Regions from separate parts of the Homo sapiens genome. Here region 1 is linked to region 2. Evidence: fine-mapped expression QTL. A gene starts in region 2. The other region holds a variant in brackets. All regions are shown on one strand. Distances are between the middles of the regions.

Region 1 (8,397 bases), 110 kb before region 2:
TATTTGACATTTGTTAGGTATAACTTACTCACATGTAAGAGGGGGATAATGTCATAGTTATCTTATGAGGGTGGTAGGAGATGTAGATACAAAATTGAAAAGCATCTAGCAGTGCCAAATACCTGTGAGTGCCTCCACAGATGTTGACTTGCTTCCTCTTTTTCTTTATGCTGTGAACAATCCTCCATTGCCTTCCAAGGAGAAGAAGTGACCTCATGGTCCAGATGTTTTACTGCCTCTAGTATTGCAAATCCCAGTGGAGAAGGTTCCTGGTTGAACCATGAATTGAAACACCTAGCATTGAAGTAAGAACATCTTGGTTCAAGGGCAAGGGGCTTTATCTTTTAATGTGGGTGATTGTTCCTGTGAGTGATTATAGTGAAGCTGTACTTTGAAAAATTGCTGATGTTGATGCTGATTACAGATATGGAGAATGGACAAAATGAGAAAAGAAAAATGAAAAATTGAACTTTCCTGTAAAAGCAACACTAATTATAGACATTTATATCTATGGCTTATTATTTATAACTAATTAGTATGCAGCACAATGGCAGTGATGCAAGTCATTACATATATCACACCACCAACTTGTTTCACTCAATTGCAACAATAATTTCTCTCCATGGACACTTGACTATTGGTTTGTTGTTCAGGTTTGTTCATCTACTGATAACATAGAGTAATTAGAGGAATAGCAGTTTCCACAAAGAGAATACTGATGTATAGTGATAATTTTTTGCACTTCATCCCTTAAACAGTACTGTGGCAAAGTTGCTATTCTTATCTGCATTTTTCTGATAGGAAACTGAGGCCCAAAGAATGTAAGTAAATGCCAAAAGCCTTAAATATAGACGTTGGACTCAAACACTTTTCTCTTCCAAGCTCTTACTTGGACCTATGCGGCAAAGCTGATCTGTTGAAAGACGTTTAGTGACACATAAATGTCTTTAATTAATGGAATGAAAATGACATGAGATGGATTTGTAAAATCAAGATTTGTAGGTTTAGGCTTGAGTTCTACATCCTAGGGCAAAGGATGTGACTGCTTATCTGCCCCTAGGGTCAGAATTCCTGACATTCTTGTTTTTTAATGCTTGTGTCTGCTTGCACTTTGTAATCTGTAGGCTTCCTGAAAGCTCCAAAAATCTAAAAACAATAAATCATTCAACATCTTTTAGCTTGTTTTTCTTTTTTAGAGACAGAGTCTCACTGTGTCACATAGGCTGGATTGCAGTGGTGCAGTCATAGCTCATTGCAGCCCTGACACCTTGGGCTCAAGGGATATTCCTACTTCCACCTCCCAGGTAGCCAGGACTATAGATGCACACCATCATGCCTGGTTAGTTTTTTTTTTTTAATTTTTTAATTTTTTTTTTTTTTGTAGAGACAGGGTCTTGCTATGTTGCCCAGGCTCATCTTGAACTCCTGAGCTCAAGAGATCCTCCTGCCTCAGCCTCCCAAAGTACTGAGATTAAGGGTGTGAGCCACTGTGCCCAGCCATTATTGCATTTTTGAGCTACCCAAATGGCCTAGCACTATCTTCAATATTTCAGAAGTACCATACTGTGTTCCAAACAAAACATAGCATTCCCTATGGACAGTGTGGTTTCTAACCGAAGTGGACAGTGGGTCCTCATGCCTGATGGCTCTAGAGAAGAGAAGGCTGCAATTGGACCCAAGTTCTTCAGTTAGGCCAATAAATACTCCCTGTTACTCTGATCTGATGATTTTGAGATTTATCTGCAAGGTGTAGGGGAGAAGGAAAGTCAATTTGCCATGCTTAAAGGAAAAGATAATGGGTTAAAGAAGACTTTGATGAAGCTTTGAAGTCTTAAGAAAGCTAGATTATATCATTCTCTCCAAAGGTGTTTCAGTCGCCCTTTTTACCTTGGGGTTTGGCGGTTATTTTATGCCCCCTAAAAACAATGTACCAATTATCCAGTGACTAGTGTTCCAATTAATTTATGGACATGAAGATTAACATGCAATCTGCTAATGCATTAATGAGTTTGTAATATTTAGAAATAGGAGGACCAAAACTGGTAGACCAATTCTGAGTTTTATCAACTTCAGTGGTTGAAATTAAAATGAAAATAGCAACATTTGTTTTTATTCTCCCTACAAAGAAACTAATTATTTTCCTCTGGGTAATGATAATTAACAAAATTCCTATTGTGTTCCTGATCAGTTCACAGCTGGCACTTCGATAATTACAAAGACTTGGTTTTATGAGGTGACATTAAACTCCTGCCTAACTTGGGAAGTACATTAATTGTATACTATTGCCTGAGCTTATTAATTCTAAATTATGCCTCAATGAACTTCTCAAATTGGGAGCAACATTTATATTAATAAACTAGTCAGTGAGAGGGAGGGAAGGAGGGTGCGAGAGAGAGAGAGAGAAAAAGAGAGATCATAAGAATCTACTACTGAGTGTAGATTTTGTCTGCTCCAGATGTTATAGCTGGGTTTAAAAAACTTTGATATGTTTGAATAAATTCCAAAGGAACGTCTCATCCATTCTTTTTTTTTTTTTTTTTTTTGTGACAGAGTCTCACTCTGTCACCCAGGCTGGAGTGCAGTGGCATGATCTTGGTTCACTGCAACCTCTGCCTCCTGGGTTCAAGCGAGTCTCCTGCCTCAGCCTCCCAAGTAGCTGGGATTACAGGTGCCCACCACACACACCTGGCTGTTATTTTGTATTTTTAGTAGAGGCGGGGTTTCACCATGTTGGCCAGTGGTCTTGAACTCCTGACCTCAATTGATCCGCCCACCTCTGTCTCCATCTCCCAAAGTGCTGGGATTACAAGCATGAGCCACTGCGCCCAGCCTCATCCATTCTTATAACACATTTTTAGCCATTCTTTTTTCATTTAAGCAGGAAAAGCGAAGTGCTAGGTAAGCCTGGGATTTGTGGTTGAAATGTGTTCAGAGTGCTACCCTCCCTCATTCCTTGGAACTTTCTGAAGGACCAGAACTGACCTGAGGACCTGTCGGGTGTGTATCACTGAGGGAGTTCCAGGGCTATGCAGGGAAGCCCTGAGTGGGATGCAGTGATTCCTCTCTATTGTGTCTATTTCCATGAGGGCTGCCATCCTTCATGTAACAGTACCTTTAGGAACAGGGACCATATATCTATATATTTCTATTTCTAAGTTTCAAACAGTGCTTGGCAGCTAACAGGTGGTCAACTAATGTTTGTCGGATGAATGAAGGGTGGTACCAAGGAAGAATGGTGCGTTTAGTCCTGGCTGCTAAAGGAGGTTTAATGATAATTGGCCAATGTGTGGTGATTAAGCCTCAACAGTTACATAGAAGAAACCATGTTTATACTCATGTTGCTTTAACAATGCCATTGAAGTCTGGCACCGTGTCTCATACCTGTAATCCTAGCACTTTAGGAGGCTGAGGCGGGTGGATCACTGAGGCCAGAAGTTTGAGACCAGCCTGGCAAACATGGCGAAACCCCATCTCTACTAAAAGTACAAAAATTAGCCAGGTGTGGGGGCACACACTTGTAATCCCAGCTACTCTGGAGGCTGAGGCATGAGAATTTCTTAAGCCCAGGAGGCAGAACTTGCAGTGAGCCAAGATTGCACCATTGCACTCCAGCCTGGTGACAGAGTGAGACTCTGTCTCAAAAAAAAAAAGCCAGTAAATGTTACTTCTATCTTAAATTTCCAGTATAGCAATTTAAAAGATGATCTTTAATTTTTATGGATACATAATAGTTGCACATATTTACTATTTATGGGGTACATGTGATATTTTGATACAAACATACACTGTGTAATGATCAAATCAGGGTAATTGCAATATCCAACACCTTAAACGTTTATTATTTCTTTGTGTTAAGAACATTCCAATTCTACTCTTTCAGTTATTTCAACAATAAATTATTGTTAACTATGGGAAATTTTTAAATACAATAATGTCTTATGCTGATGAGGATATGTGAAAGACACATTCATGCAACCCTTTCGGAAAGAAATTTAGCAGTATCTATCAAGAACTTGGACAATTTTCGTTATCTTTACTCTGGTAAAATTCAGCATCTGGAAGTCAGTTTTAATGAAGTAATTCAAAATAGAAAAATAGCTTTCTGTACACAAAGGTGGTGATCTCAGATTTATTTGAAATCATGGGAAATAATTTGAGTTTCCAATGAAATGGGAATGGTTACAAAATATTGCACATTGACTAATTGGTGCTTTGCTGATTTAAAATATTTTTCAAGACTTTACAGTAATATGAAGAATTCTTATATTAAGGTATAAAGTTTATACATCATTATCACAACTAAAATATACTATATATAGAAAAGCCTAGAAGGAAATATTATTAAATGTAAGAATAGAAAACAGATTGGGATAAAATCCAGGAAAATATTAACATTTTTAGTTGTATTTTTGGTTTGTTTTTGTTTTCCCAGTTTTTAGTAGACCCTTTTAATGATGCCTCCTCAACTCCCTTGTGTTGAGAATATGTGACTCTGCCCGGTCTCCTCCTCCCTTCCTCACCTACCACCACTTCTAACCTCCCACTACCCGTTGCAGATTGGATCATGATGGACACCTGACTCATGGTGG[G/A]CAAACTGGATCTTTTCTTCTGGGAATTAGACTTGGAAATTCAGAGAAAACAAGTCAGTTTGTATGCATGCCTTGGATTGAGAGACATGAACATTTTGGACTGGAGGTGCGGGCATCTTCTCCCACTTGCACAAAGAAAGCAGATTTTCAGGAAAATAAGACAAAAGCAGATATACAAAGAAAGAAAAAGACAAGAGTTCATGAGATCTAACAGAGGAACTGGTTAATGATGACTTTCCAGTTTCTGGTTGTAGCCTTCATGAAGCCTGGCTTATAATATACAGTGTTATTATTATTTATTCTCAAGTCAGTTTCTGTTCCTGCAATCAAGTATTACTATATAAGATGGCTTTACTTTTGGGTGTTTTTGGAAATATCTCTAGTGAGCATGTATTACTACTAGAATATTATAGTGTACATAATGATTGATGTATTTTTAAAAAACAATAGATATTTTATCAAGAGCTCCTGCTGACACACCATTTATAGCAAGTAAGAAGCATAGATTATTCATGGACGTAGAATTACAGTGCTTCACTGATTTTGTTTTTCTTACTTTTGGGAAATTTGATAATTTTATTTGCCTATAATATGCAGTTATTTGTTATTGTAAACAAACTTAATGTGACCAATATCAATTTTAAAATGATAAAGGGAAGAACCAATCATTAAGGTGGGTTGTGTCCAGCCTGTTCTCTGCACTTGTGCCATTGTCTAGCCTCTGTTCCCTGACTCTTGGCGAGGCCAGACAAAAATTATATTGCCACCATCTAACCTTTAGGAATACTCATGAATAAAAGCATTAATGACAAGGAAATTGTTCATAATGTGTTGTTTAATAAAAAAGTCACAAAACAGGATGGACAGTACACTACTAATTATATAAAGTATTAAAATATATAAAAAAGCCTGGCAGGAAATATATCTTTTTTTTTTTTGAAATGGAATCTTGCCCTGTCACCAGGCTGGAGTGCAGTGGCGTGATCTTGGCTCACTGAAACCTCTGCCTCCCGGGTTCAAGCGATTCTCCTGCCTCAGCCTCCTGAGTAGCTGGGACTACAGGTGCACACCACCATGCCCAGCTAATTTTTGTATTTTTAGTAGAGACAGGGTTTCACCATGTTGGCCAGGAGGGTCTTGATCTCCTGACCTCATGATCCGCCCGCCTCGGCCTCCCAAAATGCTGGCATTACAGGCATAAGCCACCACGCCCGGCTGGAAATATATCTTAATGTTAACTGTGGTATATTTGAGTTGTGGTTTTACAGATAATTTAAAATTTTCTGTTTGTACCTCTTTGTGTTTTCCAAAATTTCTGTGGTATATATAAATTTAGTTGGTAATAAAATAAAACATTTATTTTATTTTATTTTATTGGGGGTGGGTTTTGGAGCGGGAAGTTTAATAGACAAAAAAAAAAAAAAAAGGGAGAGGAAGCTGCCTCATGCTGAGAAAGGGGGTTGCCCAAGAGAGTCTCCCAAAAGTTCTATTTTTAATGAAAAAATAATTACCTTAGTCACCAAAACAGTATTGTCAGTCTTCCCTTCTTATTCCAACAGATGTGGAAGTTTAAGAAAGAAAGAAAGAAGGATGGAAGGAGGAATAGAGTGTGGGCTGCCTGGGATGCTCTACCTGTGGGCTTCAGGCCCTCTTATTTTTCTCTAGGGGAGTGTTGATAAGGACTGGGATTTGTTCCTGGTGGAGAAAATCCAAGGCTTAGAGTAGGTAGTGGCTGAGAGGTCTAGTTTGGAAGTAAATATTAGTTTTGAATCCTGGCTCTATCTACTCTTTTCTCTCTATGTAGACTTGGAAAATTACTTAACCCTTGCTAGTGTTGGCTTTCTCATCTGTGAAATGATGCAGCTAGCTCAAGGGATTGTTGAGAGCACAAAATGAGATAGCATAATCAATCATTTAGCAGAGTTACTGGGTCATAATAAGTGGTTGTGGTGTTTTTTTCCCATTACTGTTAGGTGACAGACGTAAATCCTCTGTAGATACTCTATTAATCCTCTATTTCTACTGGCTTTCATTATTTTTGTGTACGCAGACATGTCCTTCTTTCTATATCTCTAGCCATTCTAAAAGTAGATAAATCAGTGCTTCTGAAACTTGAATGCCCATATGATTAGCCTGTAGACCTTATTAAAGTGCAGATTCTTTCTCTGTATGTCTGGGGTGGGATTCACGTTTTTAATTTTTAACAAGCTCTCACATGATGTAAATGTTGATGTCCAAAGATCACTTTTAGCAGCAAGGATTAGGATAGCCCAGCTCAAATCTATCATCTGTGTGAAATCATGAACAATGTCCCCAGACAGAATCGTCTTTTGTTTCTTTGGCTCTTAAAGCACATCATTTATATTCCTAACTTAGCACTTAGCACATTCAGCCTGCTGTGATGTATACAATTCTGTTCATTTCTAACTAAATTCTTGACAGTAGACTGTGCGTTCAACTCCTGAAAGCTGTCAGTGTCCACACAGGGATGTTGACATACTCGACCCATGATTATCAAATTATTGAACTGGATAGAAAATAATCGAATAATGTCCTAAAATAACATTGTTTTTTGCATAAGCATTCATTTAGAAATCACCAACATCAATCAACTCAACTAGTGCAAATCATGAAAGAGAGTAGTGGTGTGACCCACACAATGGATGGTTTTGGTCGCTTGGCAGGTGTTAACCCAATGACCACAACCAAGGAGGATTTACCAAGGGGATTTTTGTTACTTGCAACAAGTAAGGAGAACACTGGGGATAGTTCCCAAAGCAGTGTGTCTCTCCAAAGGAAGATGAGAGCAGGGCTTTCATTAGGCTGGTTGGCTTAGTCATTGTATGAAAGGCAGGGTAAAGGCAGTGCAGGCACAGTCCTGATCATGCTTCTTCATATATTGCAGGTATAGAAAATGGTGAATAAGCTCCTCCCTAGGTGGGGTTTTTAAGTATGGTAATAGGGAGAGTTCACCAAACTTCATCTCCAACTCAGGCACCTCTGGTTTTACCTGGTTTTTGTTTTGCTATAGCTGGGCTTCTTCCTGGAACCTTTTGAAACAGCAGAAACTCAGTGTGCCACAGTTACAAGTTACTAGGGAACCCTGAGTTACAATGTGAATGATCCCAAAAGGCAAATAAATTGTGATAGCTTCCTTCTTTTAAAAATACACTATAGAAGGCAGGTGGGATGATTTACAGGGTGGGATGACAAAGCTAATCTGAGATGATATATTTTCCACAGATAATCAAGTAAATGAGCAATAATTTGCTTTTCAAATTCTGAGTCTCTTCCCTGGCTATGCTTTAAATGGGACTTCCACATGGGCCATAGCCCAAAGTTGGATCCCTTTGCACAGAGGCTAGACATTGAAGTAGTGGCCTTTGGGGTAACGCAGACTCACTTCTGTTGAGAGTAATTAGCGAAGAAAATTTGTGGGAACTGAGGAAGGTTCAGCAGAAGTCTGCCCTCTCTGGACATTTTTTGGTGGCTGGGAAGCAGGGCAATTGTCCTGCCTGACTGTGGAGTTTGTTCAGCCTTGTCATGGACATCTATTGCATAATTCCGACTTTCCTTCTCTGGAGTAATGGACATTTCACTTCAGAAGGACTTTTAATTTTACTTAAAAAATCCAGTCAACATAATAGAAGATAAATTCAATTTTCAGTAACATTTTACTCTGTTACCACTTATGTCCTTAGGGAAGCTTAAAGAATTTTCATCAGTACACTAAAAATTAGATAGTTGGATATGTTGCAAAACTTTCAACACTTGACTCAAAATTCCCACTATTGCTAAGACATTCTTA
Region 2 (8,397 bases):
CTTCAGAGCTTAGAATCGTGACTGGCACTCAATAGATGTTTATTAAGATAAATAAATGGGACTTCTGGTACCTTCTGTTATCAAGCCTGAGGCATAAAAACAGACAAATGGATGTCTGAATAGCCTTGGCAGCTGGATCTGTTTAATCACTTACATGTTTCTTGGCAAACTTGTGGACTAATCTATTTCTTTTTTCTCAAATTTGTTTCCCATGTCAGGAAGAGGATTATTTGTTCTGTATTATTTTTTTAAAAGCAATATCTTAAGAGTCTTTCAGCTGAAAGGTATTGCAGTAATATCCGTTTAGTAATAAGGGTGACGGATGCCTGCTTCAGCTATCATCAATAATGCCAGATTTTAAAGAGAATTTTGGATTGTATTCATCTATTGCAAGCTTTGACAAACTTTGTTTTCCTGTGAAAACAAAAAAAAGATTATTCAACAGAGCAGTTTGTGTTTGTTAGTGGGAGAGAGATCATTAAAAGTTTGTGATTATAAAATGCTTAAGGGTCTTGGGCAGACCATAGATGACTTTTTGTCTATAGAAAAGTTGTTGTAATTAGAGGATAGATTCTCTTCTCCTCTCCACTCAGGTAATTTATATGCTCTTTTGTCATCCAAGACTAGGACCCATTTTTTGACCAGGTGCCATCACTTTCTATTTAAATACAGAATGGTTTCTATAGAAATTATCCAAAATACATGTGCTCTTTGAAGCTATATGTAGTTACTATCCAGATGGCTGAAGCATGCTGTTATAATGCATGACCATTTATGTGTTTTTAAGTGAAAATTATGACTTCTAGTATTATAAGAAATAGTCTATAACAGCAATTATTAGTTAATAAAACAAGGGAAAGAAAATGGTTAGAGGAAAGTTACCAATAAGACACAGAGAAAAATGTCAAAATAATAAATTGGTTTTCATGTTGTAAAATGACTCAAGAAAGAATCTGAGCAGGGAAGAGTAGGGGCTGAAGTATTTTCTCTTCTAAATTTGATTATGCCAACTTGCATAAATATTGCTTTCTGTTTGTGGGAGAGAATGAGAGAAAGAAAAGATCAGAGAGGAAAGGACAGAATGAGACATAGAAGAAGAGTTTCATAGCGTTTGAATCCACCTGGAATAAACTGATTGACCACTGACAAAAATCTGGACTGTCACTTCTTCTTGGAGAACCACACTAGAACTTTGCGATAAGAGTGATCTCTAAGATGTATTGATACTACCCTTTGGTGTTTTGATTTATATATATAATTTTATGTCTTCATATATATATATGTCTTTATATATATAAATCAAAACACCAAAGGGTAGTATCAATAAATACATATATATTTACATACATATATATTCATATATATATGAATATTTCCATTTCTGTTCTTCACTGAATAAAGCTAAAACATCTTAATTCAAGATCTTTGATGACCTACATTTAACCTACTTTTTTTTGTCTTACTTGCCTTTATTCTCATTTATGTTATTTATAAAACTAGAAAACAACAATACCCACAGGAGTAACGTGTATTAAGAATCTGCCTGGCACAGAGCTAAGAATCTGTGGAAATCTTACATGCTGAATTTAATTGTAATCCTCACAAGAACTCTGTGAAATGAGAGCTATTCTCATCCACATTTCACAGGTGAGAGGACTGAGCCTTTAAAAAGTTCAGTAACTTGTCTGAGGGCCCACAGCCAGTGGATGATGTGGCTCCAGGGTCCTGTGCTTTATGACTTACTGCTCTTGCTGTCCCGATAGGTGCCTTCAATCCAGCCCTCTCTCTTTGCTTGAAATACTTGCTATTCCATCCCACCTTCATAGTTTCCCTTTCCCCGTTCTTCTAAGTGCAGCCCAAATGCCACCATCTTGAATTACTGCCCTCCAGGTGGCTGTAACATCGTTCTCTGAAATTCCTCTGTCTTTGCTACTCAAAGTGTAACACACCAGCAGCAGATCTGGGGTGTGGCTCCCAGGGCATCTACTAGGAGCTTCTTGGAAATGCAGAATCTGAGGCCACATCTCAGATCTCCACACTTAGAAAGTGCATTTTAACAAGCTCCCCAGGGGATTTATGTGTGCAGTAGTTTAAGAAGAACTGCAGTATAGGGCTTTCTTTTCTTTCTTTCTTTTTCTTTCTTTCTTTCTTCCTTCCTTCCTTCCTTCCTTCCTTCCTTCCTTCCTTCCTTCCTTCCTTTCGTTTTTTCTTTTTCTTTTTTTTTTTGACGGAGTCTCGCTGTGTCGCCCAGGCTGTAGTGCAGTGGCGCGATATTGGCTCACTGCAAGCTCCGCCTCCCGGATTCATGCCATTCTCCTGCCTCAGCCTCCCGATTAGCTGGGACTACAGCTGCCCGCCACAACGCCCGGCTAATTTTTTGTATTTTTTAGTAGAGACAGGGTTTCACCATATAAGCCAGAATGGTCTCGATCTCCTGACCTTGTGGTCCGCCCGCCTCGGCCTCCCAAAGTGCTGGGATTACAGGCATGAGCCACGGCGCCTGGCCAGTATAGGGCTTTTTCTTGTTTTCTTTTTTCACTTTGTATCTTTGTTATTTGTTTACCTGTTTTATATTCTCAAACCATTAGCTTTTTGAGGGCAAGAGGCACTTATATTCTCTTTTGAGTATCCATAAATATGTGTAAAATAGAAGAAGGCTCATAGTTTTTTTTATAACACGGCACTTATATTCAGAAATTTAGATCATATTCTAGGTCTGTGTTGTTTGGAATAGTTCCTCCCACTGTGCTAATAGAATCACTTATAGCAATTATTTTACTCATTATGTTTCCATAATCTCAGGCTTTTGATAACATCGAAAATGTGAAGAGGCATAATCTAGGTTTCTAAAATAGTAATTCCTTCCCATAGCCTTTGATCTATATCTAGTCCTTTGGATACAACACTTTTCACTGCCAAAGCACAAATGTAGATATTACAGATTTGGAGAAAAATCAATACTTAGAAAATAGAAGTACTGAAAGCTGAAGACTCCAATCAATTTCACATATGAAGTTTTAAGGTTTGTCTGCAGTCAGGATTCTCACTGTCTTCCAGGAACCTTGGAATGAAATTCTGTTTTGACAAGGATTTGATTCCAAGCTTTATTTTAGAGGTGATTTTGTTAATAACATAACTTCAGTCACTACAGATGCTCCTGTATTGTTGCTTACAATTTATATACTAAGGATAAAGTTACTGATATTTTGAAATAACTGTGTGTTTTCTAGTTCTTTATTTGGACACAGTGTTTGCATGTATTTATACCTCTAAATGTTCTCTATGAGCATGACCAACTGATTATTGAGATTGGCAGGTGCTAGCGCCCTTCAATCAGCTTCTCATTGCTGCACAATCTGGCTTTTCTCTTCTTTTCACAGAATATATAATTGGAATACATGCATGAAAAGAAAAGAGGGAAAACACATATCAGTGGCTTTTTTTCTTTTTCTTTTTCTTTTTTTCACTTCTACTGATTCCATTTCAGCAGTTAGTATGACCTCTCATAATGTTCCAAATCTAAAAATTGTCAAAACAGAAATCTACTCTTCGGAGCTGACACAATTCCTCAATTTTGGAATGACTCTGCTTTACCTCTTTTTAGAATTTCTTCTTTCTGCGTGAGTGTGTGTGTGTTGTTTTAGTATGAGGCTCCCTTCCCACCTCAGTCATTGGTTTGCTCGCTCCCTTATGTGATGAATCAATGCTTTCAGAACAGGGGCTTCTGAGTGACTGCGGGAACAATTACTTCCAAATGACCTCGTGCATCTTATCAGGGAGCATTCAGACCACACCCCAGGTAAAAGGAAGTCTTTGCTTAATGCTTTCAGTAACTTTTAAAAGCAGTGTACGGTGCTGGTGGTATTTGCTGCAAGGATGTGAGGGAGAGCTGCCCAGTGAAGATAAATTTGTATGTATATTGAAATGAAATGCTATCTTCACTTAGAGAAAAGGGTGAGCTGATAAAGACAAAACTGCTCATTGGGCAAAGAAAATGCTCAGGATTGCCCTTGGCACAGTGATAATGTAAGATACCCTGTAATGCCTTAACAGGAGGCTAGAGGCCATCTGCGAGTGTGGGTGTCAACATCTGAAGGAAGAGAACTTTTAGGGAAATATAAGAAAGGAAGGCATTACAGCCCAAAACTGAGCAAAGGAGCTGTTAGCCTGCGTGGCATGCGGGAAAACAGTTTCTCAAATTATTAGGCTATCCGGTGAGAAGATGACGTTCTTAGAGATTTTGAGCATTTCAAAGTGTATTTAGAAAAAGATTTTAATCCTTTTATCTCATATTTCTATGACTAAATTAGTTTCCCAAGGATAGAAACTAAGATATTTAAATAACATTGACAACTGAAAGTGTTAATTGGCAATTAACAAGTGCAATGCTGTTAACATGCATCTGTTGCTGCTTTGTGTGGAAAATGGTTTTTCATCACCATAGCAATTCATTCTTAGGCTACATTGGAACTTAGCCACAGTATGCAGTAAACAGCAAATATTTTTTTGTTCTCTCCTAAACAAGGGATTAAATAGTCTACTGGCTAATATGTGGCTCTTTATCTGAATGTTGCATTGCATAGTTGGTGTAATTTCAAATTCTTTTCCAACTGAAATTCCTTGTGAATGAGTATTAGATCCTTGGTAAGTTAAGGATGCTAGGTAAAGGTGGTGAAAAGAGCTAATATTGTACTGTTAGCTTAAAAGCGAATACCAAATGATTGCCCTTTTTGTGATTATTCTTCTGAAGATATGTATGTGGACAGGAATTTATGTCTGATCTTGTTATTCTCCAACAGTAACTCAGGAAGATGAATAAGTCTTTAGTTTTATTAGATTTCCTGTTTCTGTGTTTTCTGGAATCACATCATGTACTGGTTCAACTAAAATAAAAAAAAATTGTTTCCTTACACTGGTGAGAAAATTTTATGTAGGATATGGATGTTTCTTTAGGAAAATATAACAATAAATTAGAAAGAAATAGGTTTTCTTCTTTTCAGTTGCCTTTATTGTCAGGATGTGGTTATGTTTAGAAATTTTTTAGGCAGTACCGTTGTAAAAGCATACCTTATTCATTGAAGCATCAGTTTTCATTCATACTTTGTTTCTACTTTATTCACTGAAAGTTATAGCTGTCAACTTTTAAAAAGTTCATAGCATGTGACATACCAGTTGTGGAGCTGTATTTGTATCTTAGATACTTAAGTAGCATTGAATTATACAAATTGTGCAAGGTGTTTGAAGAAATAAATTTTCATCATTATATATGCTTTAGAAGGTAAAGCTACTTACTGCTTATAATGGTTATATGTATTTTGTAACCATGGGGTGCTTATAATGAAGACTTTCATATATTATTTTTTAAATTTTATTTGGATGGAACATAAGATAGACCTATAGTCATGACATGGAAAGATAAGGGAAGGCCTAGTTACAGAACCTGGGGACAAAGTTGCAATTTCACCTCTTTACTCCTAAAGGATTATCTTTATTTCTTACTCAAATGAAATTATGGGATGGATTATTTGAACTACTTCAGTAATTTCCTTGCCAAAACCACTCTCCTTTCTATCATGATATTGATGAGATTAGTTATGTGATGAAACAGCCCTAGAAGATAATACATCTAGAAGGCCTGTTGTATTACGTATTGTTGATAGATAAGTGGGCTCCTTAAATCTCACAAGGGATCCTTCCTACAATATAAAGCACTGATTTATTACTTTTTGATGATAAGGTATTTTGACATGGATACAATGAGGAAATAATGACACATATCTTTAAAGGCGAAAAGAATATTGAAAATTAAAAGTTTTTAAAACCCTGTCAATATTCTTGTCTCACAGTTCCTTGATCTTCACAAGCTCAGTGCCCTTCCTTTCATATACTCAGTCTTAATGCCAAAGCCTGGAATTTAGAATCATCTGGAATTATCATACTTCTAATTATTAAATTAATAAACTCTCATATCATATTATGACCCCATCCATTCTCTCAAACAGTCATCATAGTATCAACTCTGTTTCCTGAGCACAGAGACCTCTAGTTCCTTCAACTTGAGGGTTCTTCCTCCTTACCTATACAAACTGAACTCCATGGTCAATCATTTGCTCTACTCTCACCAGTACCCTTAATTTCCTTATACTTGCCACATCCTGCCAAAACCAGCAAAGCATTCCTTGAGAGACTATCGAACAGCCAAGCAAATTGCCTCACTGTTCCTGGATTTATATTTGGACTGGTTCCTCAGTGTAGACTGTGAGAAATTTTGTTTCTGGTCAGCCCTCTTTCTGACTACTGTCAGTGATGTTTCAGCCTTTTAAAATCTTCCTTAAAACGCCCAGGCCACCTTGGCTAGTTCTTCCTCAGCTGGTGGATCACTCAATGTTAGAGTCTGTAGGGTTTGGCCTTAAGCCTCTTATTTTTCTATTTGTGTTTACATCTTTATTGATCTCATCTAGTCTCCTGGTTTTAAATATCATCTATGGGTTAACAACCCTAGTAATTTTATCCCCAGCACAGAATTTCCTGTAAACTTGACTCATACTCACATTTCCACTTGGTTGTATATTGGGCACACAAAATTTGATCGTTATTCTCAAACCAGCTTCAACTATTGTCTTCCCCATTTCAGTGAATAATATCTCATTTCTTGCAGTTATTCAGTTCAAAATTTGTCTACCCATCTTGATTTTTGTGTATCTCTCATATTCCACTTCCAATTTTTCAACAAATTTTAAGTTTTGTCTTTAAAATGTAGCCAGAATCTTAACAGTTCTTACCACTATTACTGCAGCAAACTACATTCAACTCACCAGTTTTTCTCCTATGGGTTATTGCAATAGACTTATAGCAAGTCTTCATAGCATTTATGAAAATAGTACTACATATGTTGTTTATTTATTTGTCTACTGTCTGTTTCCCTCCACTAGAATATAAACTCCATGAGGGTAGGGATTTTTGTTCACTGTTATGGCACCAACCCCTAGAATAGTGCCTAGCATTTAGTAGGCATTTAATAATACCTCATTGAATAAATGAAAGTAAGTAGAAGGCAAAGTATTACAGTGAGGGTTGGTTTTACTAGGAGCATAGTAGTAGGACTGAAGGCCATAAAAAAGGGCAGAGATGCAGATGTGTGAATAAATGTGGTGTTGGGGGCCTTGAAAATTCTTTTCTGATTGCTTCCGTTACCTTAACGAAATAGGAAACAAAGTCATCAGCTCCAAGTGAGAATGTGGGAGAGATGTTAGAGGTTTGAAGAAAGGGGAAAAAGTGTGAAAGAGTTTTCTAGGCCAGTGGAAGAGTGAATGGGCTATGGAAGTATAGTACGATTGTTGGGCAGCATTGAAAAGCCTTCTTGAGGCTCAGAGTGGTAAATATGAAGTGAGATCAGTAGGTGTGGTTGTGTGGTTTCCCCCAGGCATGTTTACCTTCCTGGTTCAGAAATAGAGTAGGTAGGGGATTAGACTTAGTGAGGGCTGTAATGTACTCAAACAGGATGATGATATAAAGGAGGACAAGGGATTTGAGGGGTATCCAAAAGAGTAACTGTGGTCAACTTGGTTTTTGAAGCTGGTTAAGAAGACAAATGTAGGAAAATAATTGTGGAAGAATCAGTAGATTTAAATCATGGTGAAGTTAAAAAATGTTAGAGTTGGACTACTAGGGGGATAGTATGGAGCGATAAAAAGTGATGGTCAGAGAATGAAGAAACAAATTACGGAAGGTTTGCAGCTATTGGGCAAGGCTAGGGATGTGAGGGGCAAGGAAGAATAGAGGTCAAGGAAATACAATATTATAAAAAATACCCATTGAGATATAATACTGGGTATTATACAAAGCATTGGGTTAAGAAGCGTGGCATTGAACCAGAAACTGAATCTTTAAGGAAAGAAGCATTTAATACGGGTGTGGAAAGATGACTGCAGCTAAGAGAGATTGTGAAGGGTATAGACTGATGACATGAGATTCAAAGCTGGAAGTTTTTAGACAAGAGAGAAGAATAGTCTGGAAGCAGTAAAGATAAGCAAGGAGGACACCTATTTTACTTCCAGGCCCATTGGTGCAGGAGTGTGAGAGAAAACATTTATCATTGAAATAGAGTCCTTCAGAGAGAACCATGTTTTAGTTATAACTAGAAAGTGAAGGGAGTATTTTGAAAATAAGATACAGATATGTAAGATTTTTTTAATTGCTCACTGAATTCCAGAAGGTATACAGTGAAAAGGTTTTGAGAGTTGGAGCAGGGTGCAAGATGGGAACAGAACTAGGAATGTGCATAGCATACAGGAATGGAGGGATGATACAGAGCCTAGGGTTTCTCATGGGCACTGACATGAACTGGGTTAAAAGGCGTGCTCATAAGGTCATAAGGTCTGAGCAGTTCAAGGCATA

Evidence for each region.
Region 1: its variant is fine-mapped to the expression of MLIP in sun-exposed skin (GTEx, PIP above 0.99). The same link has a PIP of 0.9 or more in esophagus mucosa and unexposed skin.

The regions. Positions count from the first base shown.
Region 1 is chr6:54,002,415-54,010,811 of GRCh38, forward strand. MLIP-IT1 (MLIP intronic transcript 1) reads left to right here. Exons shown (of 4, transcript NR_046832.1): 3 at 200-305; 4 at 4,557-4,738. Among named protein-coding and RNA genes, the nearest start is that of MLIP-IT1, 7.7 kb to the left of the region's middle. The variant G/A (reference allele first, on the strand shown) is at 4,590.
Region 2 is chr6:54,107,777-54,116,173 of GRCh38, forward strand. MLIP (muscular LMNA interacting protein) reads left to right here and starts at 3,667. Exons shown (of 14, transcript NM_001281747.2): 1 at 3,667-3,799. The coding sequence starts at 3,704.